Homo sapiens: one gene and its partner. The protein of the gene in region 2 purifies or fractionates together with the protein of the main gene of each other region. This does not show direct contact. Each region holds a gene or a part of one and is shown on either strand. Other genes may lie near its edges. The genes, in order: LIN28B and ZNF385A.

The links.
Region 1: the proteins of ZNF385A (region 2) and LIN28B purify together in Homo sapiens (co-immunoprecipitation; one large-scale study listed by IntAct). This does not show direct contact.

Annotation. Positions count from the first base shown.
Region 1 is NC_000006.12:105,026,473-105,030,293, reverse strand, and holds part of LIN28B (protein lin-28 homolog B), read right to left. Parts: coding exon 3,812-3,821; intron 1-3,811. UniProt on the Homo sapiens protein: Suppressor of microRNA (miRNA) biogenesis, including that of let-7 and possibly of miR107, miR-143 and miR-200c.
Region 2 is NC_000012.12:54,374,538-54,378,358, forward strand, and holds part of ZNF385A (zinc finger protein 385A), read right to left. Parts: intron 1,418-3,821; coding exon 1,307-1,417; intron 1-1,306. UniProt on the Homo sapiens protein: RNA-binding protein that affects the localization and the translation of a subset of mRNA. May play a role in adipogenesis through binding to the 3'-UTR of CEBPA mRNA and regulation of its translation.

The DNA of each region.
Region 1 (3,821 bases), on a different chromosome or scaffold from region 2:
GCTGACAAAGATCCATTTCTTGCTACCACACTGTCAAATCTTGTTTTCTCATGGTGTCAGTTTCTATGCAGGAGTCTCTATGTTTATTGAATATTTTATTGTATGTTGTCTCTACACCATTTTGTAAAAACAAGCAGCACATGGAAAACTGGAATTGCTAATCCTAGTGACAAAAATTATGGACACCCTTAGCTTAATAGAAAGTTGGAAATTATTAGATATTAAGTGTGTCAAAGCTTTAATTACAATAAGACACACAGTAAGAGTAAGGAGTTGGAACAGTTATTCACTTCTGACCACCACCACCTCGTACCTTGCCAGATCAGTACCCCAACTATAATTCTTTGACTCCACTGCAACCCACACCCCATGTGTTTACTTACCACCTTTTCAATGTCTTCACTCTTTATACAGTTTATATTCTATCATCCATCATTACATTTGCTGCCCTGCATACATCTCCAGTGCCCTTTGTCATTCTCAACTAGGAAAAACCTCAACTCTAGTTAAATCATTTTAATGACTGTTTTACAGCTGTAGCCATGAAGTCAACAATGGCTGGAGAAAAAACACAATCACATTAACTGACTTTAAATTCGTACCCACTATTCTTATGTGGGTCTTTGGCACAGCCTGAAATTCTACCTCTTTTCTATAATGTGTTCATTCTTCTATTTTATACGTCTTTCTTGTTAAATTTCCAAACCTACTCTTCTACCATCACTCTCAGTTGATGACCGTGCTTCAAATTCAAAGAAAAAAAAAACCAGCATAAAAAAGAGAAATCTCGCCTTATCCTACCTTCATATCTATCTACCACCTGCATCTGTGCCCATAAGCTACGCCTTTCCTCCAGGTTTGTAAGAATGAACCTTCTGTACTCACATGATCAGCTCCCCCAGTTGTGCTTTAAATCCCAATACTGTCACCCACTCAAGGAAATCACTCCAGTAATCGTTCTCCTCTCTCCTGCATGTTCAATCTTTCCTTTGCACTAGACCATTCCTATGAACATATAAACATGCTATAATTTCTTCCATTTAGCCACTGCTTTGTTTCTTTCCTCCCATTTATTATAGAAACACTTCTCAAAAGATTGTCTAAACTTGCTGTCTCTGCTTCCTCTGTTTTCATTCTCTGTATTGAACACAACCCACGAAGGCTTTCACCCCCACCAGTCCACTCAGCCCGTTCTTGTCAACCTCAGACCTCAATAATGACTTCCGTGTTGCTAAGCGGTCAAGTTTCAATGGTTATCTTACTTGATCATTTCACCATCAGCACCATTTAACATACCTGATACCCTTTCTTGAAATATTTTCTTTCCCTGACTTTCCCTCCTATTTCCCACCTTCTTACTTAGTGCCCTTTGCTGTTCCTCCCTCTTCTTGACTCTTAAATGCTAGAGTGCCCCAGGGCTTAGTCCTCTTCTTACCTATGTATACTCACTGTGATGGTGATCTTATCTCCTCTTGTGGCTGTAAATATCATCTTTTTGCTAAATGTTGCCAATTTTTTAACTCCAGTGCTGGAACTCCATATAGTGCATCCATCTGCCTAATATACATCTTCACTTGGATGTGCATTATGTATCTCTAATTAAATGTCTGAAACTATACTTTTGATTTCAGGCTCCTTCTGTAGGTTTCCCCATCTTGATAAATAGTCCCTTCATCTTTCCTGTTGTATAGGCCAAAAAACCTTGGAGTCACCCTGGACTCTTTTCCTCTGATAGTCCAAATCTAATCAATCCATCAGTAAATTCTATGGTCTCTTCCTTCAAAACATATCAGAATTTTTGTTCACCACTTCTACTGCTACTACCCTTGTCCAAACCACCACTAGCTCTTTTCTGTATTATTGGAACTTCTTCTTTAGTGGTCTTTCAGCTTCTATCCTTGCCTCTCCACATTGTGCTGTCATTGCAGCTGCCAGAATGATACTCTGAGTAAATCAGATCATGTTACTTTTCAACCTAAAATTTCCCAATGACTTCCTATTTTCTCCAGAATCAAAGTCCTTAAAATGGTTGACAAGATCCAATATGAAAAAATGTCCTGCCATCTTACTCTTCAAATCTCAACCTCCACTATTCTCCCTCACATACTGATTCCAACCCAGAATTGGAATGTAAAGCATTCTAGAACTACTTTGTTAAAGATTTTATCTAAAAGACATGGAAAAATAAAGGGCTGTTTTATTTTACTTTGCTTTACTTGTACGTATTTAAGTATGTATGCAGGTATTATCTCCATGGGAGCAGAAAACCACTTTAATAGCTAAGTGTATCATTAAACTTTCACACACATTCATGGACTTTCTTTTGTACAAAATGAGCTCCTAAAAATGTCAATGAAAATGGAATTTATTGTTTCACTGGATAGCTTTTCAAACCAATAGGAAAATATGAAATAGGCAACAAGTGCTACAGAGATAACTGGTTACCAATTTGGAGAGAAAAGAAAACCTAGACCTTTACAGTTCTTTCTTCAAAAGCAAATTAGATTATAAAGAGAAGAGATACTTAAGTGTAAAATATAAATTAACTAAAATAATACTAAAAACATAAATGAATATAGCATATTTTTAATTTTGTAGTTTGGAAAATGAAATAAAGTCAGGTAACATCAAGGAGAGTCACAGACTTGTCTGTAAAAAATTCAAAACTTCAAAATACTTTTTAAAAACTATCATTAAAGATAAAATATATTTTATAAGCTAAAAAAATTTCTTATTTTTTATTTGAGAAGAAAGATTCATATCCTAAATATATCAAGAGAACTTAGAAATCAATAATAACAAACAAACATCTCAATAGAAAATGGTCAATGGACAAGAAATGTACAATTCTTAGAAGAAAAAAATGAAAACATATAAAATATATTCAACCTCCAAAGTAATCAAATAATGTGAAAAAAACCACAAACAAACAATGAGCTACATCTCTAACCTATGTAACTGGAAAAGATTTTAAAAAGACAACATTCAATGAGCTGTCTCACTTTCAGAGGTGTTACATACTGGCCCGCTAATCATTTCTGGAGAGTAGTTTAGAACTAGGTATTGAAATTTTTAAAATACATATTTTTTTGATCCAGATTTTCACTATTAAGTATTTACCCTAAAGATATAATCAGACAACTTTTCAAAAATGTACATCTAAGAGTTCCCACAGTGGTGTTATTGATCAATTCAAAATACATGAGGTAGCCTAAATATCCACTAACATATTATTCTTTAAATTATATTTTGGTACATTCAAATAGTAAAATTTATGAAGTGATAACAATTGACATGAAATATTCTATAATATACTATTAGGTGAAAAAAATTACAAGTTTCAAAATACCATATATATTATAATTCCCACCTCTAGGATTTCAAGTGATTTTTTCCTCTTTACGGTTTTTATATTATTTGGACTTTCTATACGTGAGCTGTCTTTCAAAAACAGACAAAACAATAGGTACATTTTCATTTGAAAAAAGAGGTGAGGTGTTTGGCAAATTCTGGGTGTAAAAAGGGGCACCTCTATCTATTGGGAACTTCAACTCCTCAACTGGGGTCTCAGAACAGTCTGGTGGAAAAGGTGGTCAAGGAACTATTCAGTGCTTAATGCTGAAGGCTCAGTTCAGTACATTCTGCAGATAATTCAAACTGCAAGATAGCCTATATTTCTGATATTTAATATATTCTACATGATGGTGGTTTCCTTTGGCTAGACAATATGAAATGCAGTAAGATGAAAACATTTTCAGAAATCCTTTCCAAACACAATAAACTGATAAATTAACAAAGTAAAAATGATTACCTATCTCCCT
Region 2 (3,821 bases):
AGGATCCAGCCTTTGCTGCTTTCACCCTGAGGCTGGAAGTCCCAGGATCCCTGATGCCTGGGCTCTGTCCTGACTACTTCCCCTTGGGTCTCATTTTCCCTGAAGCCTCTGTGGACACCCTGGAGGACCCTGGCCCCGAGCCCAGCTCTGGGGACAGAAAACAGCAGTGGAGACAGCTGTCAAAACAGAACCATTTGATGGGGGAGGGGAGGGTAGGGCAAAAAGTGGGAAGGGCTATCTGCTGTTGGCTCCCTGCCCCTCTAGTCTTCCACCATCCACCAGTGAGTGGAGCCAGGGTTGATAGACAGGATGCCTGGGGTCCAAGCTAAAGCAGAGGCCTGATGCTGGGTTAGTCCTGTCTTCCCTTCCCCACCCTGCTCCACTCCCATGTATACCCCTGCTAAGAATGTACCATCCTGGAGGCACAGGGTCACCCAGACAAGGGCAGAAATAAAAGGTGTGGATAGGCAGGAAAAGAAGATTGACAGCCCAGGGGTAAAGTAGCAGTGTGCAGAGCCCAGTAGTATGGAGTGTGTGTGTGTGTGTGTGTCTCTGTACTGGGTAGAGAAACAGAACATGCTTTTATTTTCCCCTACTCAGCAGAACGAGGCTCTGCTGTTTTTCTCCAAAAGCTCTCAGGGCCTGCACCCCACAAAGTCCCCTCTAGAGCCACACACACTCCACAGAGTCCCAGTGGAGCCTCAGAGGGAGGAAATCTGGGAGGCTGAACATCTGGGTTTTGGGTTTGGGGTAGCTTCTCCCCAGGGGAAAGCCCCATGGGATAAGAGTAGGGGCCAGGCCTTGTGTGTGATTTGGAGGGAGGAGAGTAGAAATGGGGTGGAGAGAGAAGGAAGCCAGAAAGTTAGAGCGAAGTGGGTGGGCCAAGGAGGAGTTTAGCAGAGGCCAAAGAGGACAGAGGCTCTGTGGGGGAGCCAATGACCTAACTCTGCCCCATACCCAAGAACCAGTGGGCCAGAGGCCACACTCCTGCTCAGACACTGATGGCCACCTATGTTCCAAGAAGCTCTGAACCACGGATGCCCAAGTCTCAAGGGAGGGAGAGGTCAACTTTAGAGGACTGATCTACTTCATGTCAAAATACACAGCAACTTCTTGTGTCTCTCCAGTGCCTTCCACAAGACCCTGCCCCTCCTGCGGTATCCCCATTCCCTGCTCTTTGCCTAATATCCCCTTAATCCCTGCCCCTCAACCAGAGTAAGTGTTCTCACCCAGCCTCTGCCCTCCCTCAAGTTCCCCTGCTGCCCCTGCCCCACCCACTGGGTAGATGAGCAGCTTGGCTTCTTACCTGAGAATTGAAGCGGATTTGACAGATATTACAGGAAATGACGGGCCGCTTGGTCTTGAGCAAGGGTCCCCCAAAAGTGTGGGAGAGCACAGCCTTCTGCACAGGGTCCATCTGTGGAGGCAGGCTGGGGTGAGCCGGGAACCCTAGCGCAACTCATGTCCAGCATTCCCCCAACACAGATATCTGTGTTGAACCAAGGTCCCCAGACCCCTTCTATCCCTTAATATGCCTGAGGGATCTGAGCCTCAGTCTTCTGATTCTCTCTTAGCCCAATCTTCATAGCACTGAAAGGGACCTGATCGATAACTGGCCCAATGCTCCCATTTTACAGGACATAGAAGTGGTTTGCCCAACGTCACACCATGAGTTAATAGCAGATCTGGTATCTGAACCTGGATTCCTGCCTTGGTCCATCATACCATGAACATACAACTGTGTCACCTTGACTTATCTCCTACAGTGAAGCCAATCCACCAGAGGCCTCTGACATGAAGTCCCAAAGCACCCTAGATCCTAGGGCCTTCAGCTGAAGCCTCTGAGCCCTTTGGGCCTCCACTCTGGGGTAAGACTATCACCAAGCCCAGCCTCTAGTCCCAGGAGACAGATGTTCCCAGCCTCCCAACTCTGGATCCCTGGTCGCCCTAACACACACACTCTCTGGACCTCTTAAGGGCAGCAACTTCTAGAGGGAGTAAAAGAACTCAGGAGAGAGTAGGAGCTCTAGTGAATCATGGGGACTAAATGGGGGGACCTAAGCAGCTGGGCTGGCCCGAGGCAGCCCAGGGATCTTCTGAACCTTTTCTCCCTGATCATCAGGGTTTCTAGGGCAGAGCTGTGGGGCTGGGCGGGATTAGGAACCATCCCTGTCCCCACCCTGGGTCAGCAGACGTCTTTGCAGTCTCCTGCCAAGAGTTCACATGAGTAAGGGAGAGGACGGGAGTTTCTCTGAGGCTTTCTGCTATCAGGGGATGAAAACCAGGGGCTCAGAGGTGTGAAAACTGCCTCCCTCAACAGTTCTCCTCCCTTTTGGCCTCTAGGCAGCTAGGGAGAGGAAAGCCTGGAATGCAGCTGAGACTGAAGATTGGGGGATGGCTGGGCTCTCTCATAAGAATGGGACTGAATTAGGACAAAACCTTATCTTCTGGGTGGAGGGATCAAGTGAAAAATAGTTGCTGGGGACTTGGGGTCCTTATCTCCTCAGCCGAGCCCATCTCTGTGACAGGTCTTTAGGGTTTCCAATGAGACACTGGTGAGAGAACAAGAAGTGGGGGAAAGTAGTAAGAGTCTGGAAAGCCCTGTCCTCTGGACTCTCCTTTCCTCTCACCAGTAGTTTCACTGGCTGGGTGGGGTTAATGTCAGGAAATGGGCTTTCGTATCCCTGTGAAATAGATGGTGGCCTCATCCACTCTCCATTTGGGTAGTGCTGAAGGCAGGGACCAGGACTGGGTTCAGACAACTGGTCTGACTGACAAGTGTCAATCTCTTGGCCTACTCTTGGTTGGAAAGAAGCCTCTCTAAGGGCTCACTTTTTTTTACCTCAGCTTCCCAGAAGCCCCAGTCACATCCAGGGAAAAGCCAAACAGGAGAACGGGTGTGTCTGTGTGTGTTAGGCAGGCTGTGATCAATCTGTGCATGGGTGGAGTGTGAATAAGTGTCATGTACTGTGCGTACATCATTTATATATCAACATTTCTGCGTCGGGGGCTTTGATGGCACCATGAATGGTCAGGTGGTGTAATCTTCAGCTGTGTGTTTATCTGTGTAAATGTATGATGTGTTTGGCAGAAAGAAAGACAGACCAAGTTGGAGACAGTCTTTAATCAGAAAGGGGAGACAGACTGCTGCTCTCAGTTCCCAGTCTCCAGGCCTTAATCCTTCCTATTTAGAGACCCCCAACTCTGTTCCAGAGTTCTCCTCAGCCCTGGGCTTCCTCACATGCTGGGTGGGGAATGGGAATTCAAACAGAAACTCAAGTTGGGCCAGGAAACCCAAGTTGGATGAAAACAGTAGGGAGAGAGGAGTGGGATGGAAGGGGGAAGCAGAGTCTCCTAGTTCTGCCTATGCTCTGCCCCATCATGCCAGCCTGCTCTCCAGAGGGGCTGAGGACACAGTACCCCGAGGATGACTTGTGGACTGGCCACCCCAACATCCATACCATGAGAATGGTTCCTGCCCTACCTGGGTCCTTCCTCCAGGGTGAGAACCTTAGCTTTTGCACAACCCCCTCCCCTGGTTTAAGTCCATAAACACCAACTAGGAGTGGGAGTGGGGAGTGGGGAAGAGGGCAGCAGTGGAGTCAGGTGGGTGCTTCCCACCCTCCTCCAGGAACTAAGGAGACACCAGGATGAAAGTGAGGACTCCTGGGCCCAATCCCTGTGCAGGTGGAATGTGAGCCACTGAAGTGCTGCTCCAGGCCAAGGTCAGGAGGCCCCGGTGACCTAGATGAGGGCTCCCTGGGGAGGGGTGAAAGCCAGCACCTCCCAGAGCCCATCTCACTCCAGAGCTTCTTCCCTGG